Regions from separate parts of the Homo sapiens genome. Here region 1 is linked to region 2. The links come from fine-mapping of genetic effects on gene expression. A gene starts in region 2. The other region holds a variant in brackets. All regions are shown on one strand. Distances are from middle to middle.

Evidence for each region. PIP is the estimated chance that this variant, and not a neighbour inherited with it, causes the effect.
Region 1: its variant is fine-mapped to the expression of RBM19 in whole blood (TOPMed, PIP above 0.99). The same link has a PIP of 0.9 or more in skeletal muscle.

Annotation. Positions count from the first base shown.
Region 1 is chr12:113,813,870-113,819,246 of GRCh38, reverse strand. It overlaps a transcript of RBM19 not described here. Among named protein-coding and RNA genes, the nearest start is that of LINC01234, 43 kb to the right of the region's middle. RefSeq lists enhancers at 1-371, 372-1,299. The variant C/T (reference allele first, on the strand shown) is at 2,192.
Region 2 is chr12:113,963,995-113,969,371 of GRCh38, reverse strand. RBM19 (RNA binding motif protein 19) reads left to right here and starts at 3,047. Exons shown (of 24, transcript NM_016196.4): 1 at 3,047-3,180. The coding sequence starts at 3,145. RefSeq lists enhancers at 2,741-2,810, 2,769-3,696, 3,697-4,625.

The DNA.
Region 1 (5,377 bases), 150 kb after region 2:
CTGTGACCCGGTGTTCAGAGTGTGGCTCAGTTAGCTGGGAGGAACGGGGACAGGCTGTTTCCAGAGTGGAGGGCTGGCTGGAACCGCATCTGCTGTCCTCACGTCCGTCTCCCACCCGCTGTGGGTCTCAGGGGCCTGGCCCCTTGAGCTGTGTCTCTGAAACTCCCTTATCAAGAGGCTTGTGTTCAGTTTGGCCAGCAGTGGGCACTAGCGGGCGCCTGGAAGGCTGGTAGAAGAGAAACTCCAGGCATCCCGCCCTCTCCCTCTGTCCCACGTGGCGTCTCCACCAAGGGTCCACCCCTGGATGGGTGAGGAGGGCCCTGGCATCTCTACTATAGGATACACACAGTCAGACTGCAGGAGGGAGATGGGTGGTCAGACAGGTCCTGGAGAACAGACAGGGGTGAGGGACAGTGGGGCCTGGAGGAGGGACAGGAGTGAGAGACAGTGGGGACGGGAGGAGGAGAGCGGAATGCACAGGCCCTGACTCCAAAGGCCTGCGTTAGAATCTCTAGGCTCTCAGTGTCTCCAGGCCTTGCGTTCCATGTCTTTCAAATGGGTGCAGGAATTCCTGCCTCATTGGATTGGTTAAGACAGAAACAGAAGGTCATGAATGGAAAGTAGTTAGCAGACTGTGTCATGCCTAGTGAGTACTTAGTAATGGTAGTTGCCATCATTATTGTGAACATAACTTCAAAACAAGGCAAGCTTGTGGGGCTGCACCCAGCAGATGTCAGGCCAGCTGGGCCCACGTCCAGAGGCTGGGGCGGGATAGGGACTCACAGGGCGCTGCGCCATGTTGGGGAGGAGCCTATGATCCAGGAAGGAGCCTGTAGGAGGTGCCCCCCTGCCCACTGGCCCCAGTAGGCAAACCAGCACCTGGCTCTTCCTGCACAGAACCAAAGTTCAAGCCCAAATGGGCCAATGGTTGTGGGGAAACAGGTGAGCACCCCCACAGGAGCAGCTGCCTGTCTATTGCTGTGTCTGTGTGTCTGTTCCTAACCCTTTCTTTTTTTTTTTTTTTTTTTTTTTTGAGACAAAGTCTCGCTCTGTTCCCCAGGCTGGAGTGCAGTGGCGTGATCTGGGCTCACCTCCCTGGTTCAAGCGATTGTCCCGCCTCAGCCTCCCAAGGCTGGGATTACAGGTATGCACCACCACGCCCGGCTAATTTTGTATTTTTCATAGAGACTGGGTTTCACCATGTAGACCAGGCTGGTCTCGAATTCCTGACCTCAAGTGATCCACCTACCTCGGCCTCCCAAAGTGTGGGGATTACGGGTGTGAGCCACCACGCCCGGCTAATTTTTTGTATTTTTAGTAGACAGGGTTTCACCATGTGGGCCAGGCTGGTCTTGAACTCCCAACCTCAAGTGATCCACCCACCTTGTTCTCCCAAAGTGCTGAGATTACAGGTGTGAGCCACCATGCCCAGCCTGTTCCTAACCCTTTCAACTGGGGGGTCTCAAGTGGGTGAGGACTCCATGGCCACGGCAGCAGAACTGTCTCTTCTGAAAACCAGACTCCGGGGCCCCTGGGTCAGCACCTCTAGGTCATTCCACAGACTTACACAGTTTAAAGAAAGAGCCAGCGAACATGGGGTGATCCTGGGGTGCCACTGGGATCCCAAGCCAGGCCCGGAGGTCTGCCTGTTTCGTCCCCAGAAACTTGAGCTGGCATCCTCCGCTGGTTTGCACTGGGCACGGGGACTGGAGAGCCACCAGGCCACTGAGCGCAGCATGCTATCACTTCTCAGGAAGTTGTGAGGGTGAGGAGAATAGCCGGGCCCACTCTGCAGAGGGGAGGAACAGGCACAGGCTAGAGGCACGGGCTGATAGAGTGAGTCCTCTCCCTCATTCATTCATTCATTCATTCATTCATCCATCAGACACCTGCTGGGCATCTGCTGTGTGCGAGACACTGTGCTGGGTGCCCCAGACACAAGACAGAAACTCGGGTCGCTCTGTGTGCCTCCACACTGGCCTTCCCTGCTGCGTGGACGCAGGCTCTGTCTCCTAGGCTTTAAGCCCCATGCATCAGGTGGAAGACAATTTCCAGCAGCCTCTGCCCGCTTGTTTTTCCTCCTCTCCTTTTCCTGCCGCCTTGGTCTTTTTTGTCTTTTGTGCAGGGCCGTCTCTCGCAGCGCCCGTCTGTGCTCCGCAGCGTCTAGGAAAGGATTAGTGTGAGCAGAGCA[C/T]GCAGGCTTTGGTGAACAGAGCCGAGCTTGGTTTCAACATCTAATTCAATTTGTTCTGCCGAGATTGAAATATGAAATGGTTGCCAGTCAAACGTTCAAAGGACGGGGAAGGGAGAGTGAGCGCATGCTGAAATTTAAATTTTAATGAAAATGACTTTAACCCTTTGGTACACCTTGCAAAATGTAACCCATCCTCCCATCCTGTGAAAGCGGCCTCTCGGGTTAGAGCTTTTCCACCCACTTCTCTTCCACTGAGCTTCACTAATAATATGTAATCATTTTTTTCAGCCGTCTTAATAATAAAAGATTAATAGAATGCTTGCATAATAATAATTTATTCACCCATGCCGCCTAGGCCATTGAAATAGTCACCTTGCCTAGATGACTTTCCCAAGCCCCATCCTAGACAAGCCCCGGCCCCTCGTTAGATTCACTCGTCACACCGAACACCTCCCTAGCTCCTTACAGCTGTGAACAGTTTCTGTGTTTTTATTTCATGTCTGACCTCTCTCTCTGGACCGGAAGTCCCAGGAGAGCAAGGTCTGTGCCCATTTTGTGCGTGCTGCATCGTGGAGTAGATGCTTAGTAAATACTCGAGGAAGGAATCAGTGGCCCCACTTTGTCCTTTTAGCAACTGTGAGAGGTAAGTTGATGGGAGATGTAGAAATGGAGAGGTGGGTGACATTCCCAAGATGGCGCTGCACAGAGGGCTGCCACCAGGCTCACACTCAGCTCGCTCTGGCACAAGCCCAAGCCCCTACCTCCCCAGAGCAGTGAGGGCAGTTCCCACATGCAGGGGGCCCGGCCCTATGCTGGGTTTCAGAGGCACACCCTGTGCTCTCGCTCCTGCTGCAGGGCCTGAACTGCTGTCTCCTCTTTACAGCGAGGGCAGGCCCAATGTGTGCCAGCTCGAGCCTTATCCTCAAGGCAGCAAGAGCAGGCCCAATGTGTGCCGACTCGAGCCCTGTCCTCAAGGCGGTGTGGGTGAAGGGCTCTCTCTCCTCACCCCCAGTGAGATTCTCCTATTCAGCTCCTGCTTGCCATGGAACCCCTAGTGTGTTTTTTGTTTTGTTTTTAAATATCAAATGCCATCAGTGCCGGACCAGTGGGCATGCGTGGCAGCTCATTATGGCTGTGGACAGACAGTGCCAGGCATTGACCAGGCATCATAGGTTTTCAGGGTAGAGTGGGATGATGGGGGCAGCCCTGAGACCACCTTCAGGACAGTTGGCTTCCAAGGACTGAGTCCTTGGCTTCATCCTCCAGGGCTCATACAGACCAGGAGCGCAAGGGAGAGGTTCAAACCTGAAACACCCAGCAAATGTGTGTTGAGCTTATGTGCACCAGGCATGGCCATGATGCTGGGAATGCAGGAGTTGACACAGCAGATAAGACTCCCTGGCCTCGAGGAGCTGGTAGTCAAATGTGGGGAGACCCAGACATGAGTGGGTGGAGGATTGCTTCCCTGGCACTGCTGAGGCTCCATTCTCTCTGGGGATGTCTGGCAGGGTCAAGGAAGGGCTCCCTGAGGAGGTGGCATGTGAGCAGAGCTGGGAGGAAGGGGACAGCTCTGTGTGCTCAAGGGAGAGTGAGGGGGACAGCCCGGGCCCCAGAAAAAGCCAGGGAGAGTGGGCAGGGGCCTGCCAACCCGGCTCAGGCTTGGGTGTCAAGTCTGGGCCTGTGGAGGGGAGCAGAGCCGGCCCAGTCTGCCACCATGTTAAGGATCAATAGCAGAAGGTCAAGGACTGAAGCAGGGACAGGTGTTCAGAAGCCATTGCAGTGGCCAGGAGAGCAGGGAGGTGGTGACTCAGAGCAGGGAGGTGGCAGTGGAGGGGTGAGGTGGCCCAAGCCTGTAGACAGACTGAAAATGCAGCCAGTGGCCTAAAGGTTTGGCTGTGGGGTGTGCACAACCAAGGCTAGCGCCCTGGCTCCAGCCCAAGCAGTGGGAAGAAGGAAGCTAGTGTGCGCTGAGACCATTGCAGGAAGAGCTGGCTTGGAGGGAAGCAGGAACTGGCTTTAAACTCGGTAAGCTGTTGACTGCTAAGAGGTGGAGAACACACCGGAGGATACGTGTCTCAGGTTGAGGAGAGAGGGTTGGACCGAGGTATAACAGGAAATTATCCTTCTTTGGTTAAGAAATCTAAAAGGGGCCAGCCTCGGTGCTTCACTCCTGTAATCCCGGCACTTTGGGAGGCTGAGGTGGGAGGATCGCTTTGAGGCCAGGAGTTCGAGACCAGCCTGGGCAACATAGGGAGACCCCATCTCTACAAATAATTTTTAACATTAGCCGGCTGTGGTAGTGTGGGCCTGTGGTCCCAGCTACTCAGGAGGCTGAGGTGGGAGGATCACTTGAGCCCAGGAGGTCGAGGCTGCAGTGAGCCATGATCACACCATCGCACTCCAGCCTGGGCAATGGAGTGAGATGCTGTCTCCCAAAAAAAAAGGGAAAAAAAAAGAAATCTAAGAGTCAGCATGGGAACTAACAGCCCCGTGTAGACAGACCTGGGAAATCTCATAGCTTCAATGCTTCAAGTTAATTTTTTTATTTTATTTTTTTTTTTTTTGAGATGGAGTCTCACTCTGTCGCCCAGCCTGGAGTGCAGTGGCGCGATCTTGGCTCACTGCAGCCCCTGCCTCTCTGGGTTCAAGCAGTCCTCCCACTTCATCCTCCCAAGTAGCTGAGATTACAGGCATGCACCACTATGCCTGGCTAAGTTTTGTATCTTTAGTAGAGGTGAGGTTTTGCCATGTTGGCCAGACTGGTCATGAACTCCTGACCTCAGATAATCCTCCTGCCTCGTCCTCCCAAAGTGCTGGGATTACAGGCATGAGCCACTGCACAGGCCTCAAGTTCATTTTGAAGCCACTTCTAGATGGTTCCAAACTCCTTTGGCCCCAGAACCCGTTTCCCAAACAAATGTCTTAAACAGATTAAGCAAAACTGCTTTGTTCCAAGTCAGGGTACAGGCCTGACCTCCCCCACCCAGACTCCTCTTCCCCCTCAACACCTCAGTGATTTGAAAAACACTGACCTAGGCCTGGCGCGGTGGCTTACGCCTGTAATCCCAGCACTTTGGGAGGCCAAGGTGGGTCATCGCAAAGTCAGGAGATGGAGACCATCCTGGCTAACATGGTGAAACCCCATCTCTACTAAAAATATAAAAAATTAGCCGGGCATGGTGGCAC
Region 2 (5,377 bases):
ATGTGTCATTGGATTTAGGGTCTACCAGGATAATTCAGGATGATCTCATTTTGAGACCCTTAAGTACATTTGCAAAGACCCTTGATATGGTTTGGCTGTGTCCCCACCAAATCTCATCTTGAATTGTAGCTCCCATAATCCCCACGTGTCCTGGGAGGGACCCAGTGGGAGATAATTGAATTATGGGGGTGGTTTCCCCATACTGTTTTCGTGGTAGTGAATAAGTCTCACGAGATCTGATGGTTTTATAAGGGGAAAGCCTTTCACTTGGTTCTCATTCTCTCTTTGCCTGCCACCAGGTAAGACATCCCTTGCTCTTCCACCATGATTGTGAGGCCTCCCCAGCCATGTGGAACTGTGAGTCCATTAAATCTCTTTCCTTTATAAATTACCCAGTCTCAGGTATGTCTTCATTAGCAGCGTGAGAACAAACTAATACAACACTTTTTTGCAAATAAAGTCACATTTACAGCTTCCAGGGGTCAGGATGCCCCCAGTGTGTGTGGTGGTGAGGGGACAGGGGATCATTCATCCCACTACACTGCCCACCCTTCTGTAAATAGCTTTTTGTCCAGATTTGCTTTTGTTAAATCCTTTTGAGTATACCTCTGTGTCCTGCTGACTGATGCATTTCCTTCAAAAACATTTATAGCTACATACCTACCGTTTTTTAACAACTGCATAGAATTCTGTTGAATGGACAGACCTTAATTTACAATTAGCATTTAATGAACTCCTATTACCTGTCTCCTCCTGGTGCCCAGTGTGATGCTTTGCAAAGATGGATCTAAGGATGCCCCTATGGCAACATAATGTAGAAAGAACAAGTGGCCTCATCTATAACTCTGAACCTACACTGTGCGCTCCTCACCAGCGAGTTCTGTAGGTTTATGCTGTGGCAGATGCATGAGCTCCCTGCATTTGGGGCTCAGTAGGAAAGAGGCATATTCGAGGATGCCATGTTTGAGCTGGTCTTAGAGAGGGGATGGGAATGGGTTCAGAAAGATATTCCAGTGGCCAAAAGCACATGAAAGATGCTGTTTCATTAGTTATCGGGGAAATGCAAATCAAAACATTGAGTCACCACTGTACACCCACTAGAGTGGCTATGATTATAAAGACCCAATAACAAACACTGGAGGAGATGTGGAGATATTTGAACCTTCATATACCGCTGGTAGGAATATAAAATGGGGAAGCCACTTTGGATAACAGGTTAGCAGGTTCTAAAAAGGTTAAGCATAGAGTTACCATATGATCAGGCAATCCTACTCCTAGGAATATATCCAAGAGAAATAAGAACATATGCCCACACAGGAACTTACAGGTAAATGTTCACGGCAAGATTATTCACAGTAGCCACAAAGCGGAAACAACCCAAATGTCCATCATCAACTGATGAATAAATAAAATGTAATACATCCATATATGTAATACTATTCAGCAAAAAAAGTGTGGTGGCTCACGTCTGTAATCCCAGCACTTTGAAAGTTCAAGGCAGGTGGATTGCTTGAGCCCAGGAGTTCAAGACCAGCCTGGGCAACATGTTGAAACCTCGCCTCTACCAAAAAATTACCAAAAAAAAAAAATTAGCCAGGCATGGTGGCATGTGCCTGTAGTCCCAGCTGCTCAGGAGGCTGAGGTGGGAGGATGGCTTGAGCCTGGGAGGCGGAGGTTGCAGTGAGCTGAGATTGTGCCACTGCACTCCAGTCGGGGTGACAGAGCCCGACCCTGTCTCAAATAAATAAACAGATAAATAAAGTGCTGATTCATGCTGCAACATGGAAGAACTTTGAAAACATTATGCTAAGTGAAAGAAGTCAATTACAAAAGACTACATATTGTATTATTCCATTTACATGAAATGTCCATAACAGACAAATCCATAGAGACGGAAAGTAGATTAGTGGTTATCAGAGGGAAGGGAGAGGGAGGAATTGGAAGGTTATAGCTAAAGGGTGTGGTGTTTCTTTGGGGGTAATGAAAATGTCCTAGCATTGATTGTGGTGATGGCTGCACACCTCTGTAAATATAGTCAGCACCATTGAATTGTGCACTTTAAGTGGGTGAATTGCATGGTTTGTGATAAAGCTGTTAACAATAAGAAGGGGGGACGGAATGTCTTTTAGGTGAAGGAAATTGCAGAAGCTTGGCAGCAACGTCCAGTGCAGCTGAGGCACTGTGGGGAAACAGAAAGGAAATACCGTCATTTAAGAGTGAAAATAGGGGTTTTCATAGGATGTCTCCATCCAAGAGTAGGTACCGAGAATGCTCAGAGAAGCAATAGGAAAATAACATCCCTTTCACGTTCTCACCTCCTTAACCCCTAGCATAATAAAGAATTATTCCCATTTTATAGAAGTAGACACAAAGGCTCAGAGGCCATTTTGGCCAAGATCTCTCAGCTAGAAGATTGGCCAGCTGAGAGTTCCAAACATTAGGAAGGGAGGCAAAATGCTTGTGGGGCTGGGGTTGAAGGCGTAGAGACTCATTGTAGGGCCCTAGGCAGTCCCTAGCTCGAATCTGACTTTCCAATTCATAGTTATAAGACTTTGAGCAAGCTGCTTTACACGCACGATTCCCAGTTTATCTGCCTGCAAAATGAGAGCGTTTATTTCCAACATGTTCATTCCAAGTATTTACACAAAAGGCTCAATACTTGATTTGTGTTGGCTGGCAATCTCTCTAAACTTCACTTTCCCCATTTCTACGAGGAAGGCAAGGGTCCCTAATCTTGCCCCCGTTCTCAGGGGAGTCCTAAGGCTCAATAATAAAAATAAAATAAGAAAAAGGAGAGAACGCGATTGCCCGGTTGGCGCGACCCTTAACACCGAGCTAAACCGGCGCATGTTAGGGACCGGCGCCCCCTGCCGCCTTCTCCGCTGCATTGGCGTCTCACAGAATCCGCCCAAGGCCCTGCGCCTGCGCAAAATGCAAGCGCCCAGGCCCACCCCTTGTGGGGTGTGACCTCCCTGAGTAGTTTTGGATTAGCCACGCCTACTTCCGGACAGGTCAGGCCAAGGTCTCAGCCACGTGACTGTGTTCCGGCTCGGTAAAGATGGCGGCGCCCAGGGCGGTAGCGTGAAACTTGGTGGAAGACGCTGACCAGTCGTGTTGGAATCAAAACAGCGGGGACCCTGCGCCATGTCGCGACTGATCGTGAAGAATCTCCCGAATGGGGTGAGTGCAGAGGCAGGACTTGGGAATCTGAAATGAGACCAGCCGGGAGCTGTGAGGTAGGGAAGAGATGCCTGGAGGTGATCGAAGAATTTTTGCTCTGGGGCAGGACTCCGGGCCAATTCTGAACTCAAAGGGGGCGGGATCCTGGGCTTATCCCCATTTGATCCCGAGGAAAGAGGAATAGTGACTGCTTACGGTTTCACGGCCGGTTGTTTGGTACCTGACTCCTAACACACCTCTTCTCGGGGAGATGACAACTCCCACCTTGTGGCGAATACCCTGCTCCCACAACCTCTTTCATTCGATCACTGTTTTTTAGTTGTTGACCCGGGACATGGTCCGACACTGTATTTATATTCCTCTCCCAGTCTGGAAACTGTTGGGGAAGACATGGGGAATATTAATCTGCGGACCTGCGTTCCAATTCCCACTCCCATCCTTAGGGCAAGTAGGAATACGGAGTGGGTAAAGGGCTTTACAGCATTTATCCAGTAAGTGGGGAGTGGTGACCCAGCCATACTTTTTTGTTTCCCTGGAGCCCAGCGCAGAACCCGACACGTGGTAGGCAAAATAGGTGAATGTACGTAATATTAGATGATTAGATGCGGTGGGCTCGAATGGATCATCCTTTTTTCTCTCTCTCGCTGTTTTTTGTTCTGTTTTGTTTTTTTGTTTTTAAATGGATTACTGCTCCTTCCATCAGGTTAGACAGTGTCTCTTGATGCCTCGCTTTGTGGGATGAGGATTTTTAGCGTAGCTGCACTTCCTTTCCCTCCCAAATTCAGCTTTGTTGTGTTTCAAGTGTAGTTGATTCTCTTATCATTGTTTGTCTTATCTCTTTTTTTTCTCTCTCTTTCATGGCTTTTTTTGGTTTTGTTTTTTGTTTTTTTCTTTTTTTGTTTTTTTTTTTTAAACGGAGTCTGGCTCTGTCTCCCAGGCTGGACTGCGGTGGAGCAATCTCGGCAGTCTCGGCTCACTGCAACTTTTGCCTCCCGGGTTCTAGCGATGCTCCTGCCTCAGCCTCCCAAGTAGCTGGGACTACAGACACGCGCCACCAAGCCCGACTAATTTTTTTATTTTTAGTAGAGACATGGGGTTTCGCCATGTTGGACAAGTTGGTCTCGAACTCCTGACCTCAGGTGATCCACCGCCTCGGCCTCCCAAAGTGCTGGGATTACAGGCGTGAGCCACTGCACCTGGCCCCCATTTCTGTTCTAATGTTGTGAGTTTTTTCCTTTCCTTTTTTTTTTTTCATTTGTCAGGTGGGACAAAGGAACTTTGTAACACACAGTTTTCAAAATTCAAACAGTATAGTAGTGTATAACATGAGTAGCAAAGTCTTTGCTCTGTCCTACCTTCCCTCTCTGTCCAGGAGTAACCATCTTCATTGATTTGTTTTTGGGACTCCTCACATGTATCTCTGTATATTTGAGGAGTGTACTTTCCTCCTTTTGACCTGCCTGCCCCAGTGACTATCTGCTAGGCCTCAACTGTGAAAAATAAGGAATTTAGATCATCTGTTCCTCCTCTCCAGTGTCTGTAATATTCTTGTTTTTAATTATCCTGTTATAATCTCTGAGTAGTATACTTAAAAATATCTATTACTCATCCATCCATCAGGTTAGACATGTCTCTTGATGCCTTGCTTTGTGCGATGAGGATTTTTAGCGTGGCTGCACTTCCTTTTCTTCCCAAATTCAGCTTTGTTGCACTTCACAGTGTAGTTGACTCTCTTATCATTGTTTGTCTTATCTCATGAATGAAAGAATAATAAAAACAAGGGCAGTTGCAGCTGACACTTGGAGAGTTTACTGTGTGCCAGGCACTGTTCCAGGTGCTTTAGGTAAAGTAACATTTAATCCTCACCATATCCCTGTGAGGTAAGTTTTATTTTTACGCCCATTTTAAAGGTAAAGAAACCAAGATACAGCGAGGTACAGGGATTTGCCTGAGGTCACACACTGGTGTAATTTATAGAGCAGGGATTGAATTGAGCAATCTTTAGTTTAGGGATTGAATTGAGGAAATAATTAGTAGTGAGTACTTGTGATATTGCTGACACTGTAGATAGAGGTGGATAAGCCTGTGTCCTTATTTTTAATGGGACTTGCAGGCTAGCAGAAAAGAGAGGCACCAGATCATTACGATGCAAGGTGCATCACTGACATGTGAACCGAGTGCTGTGGGAGCACAGTGA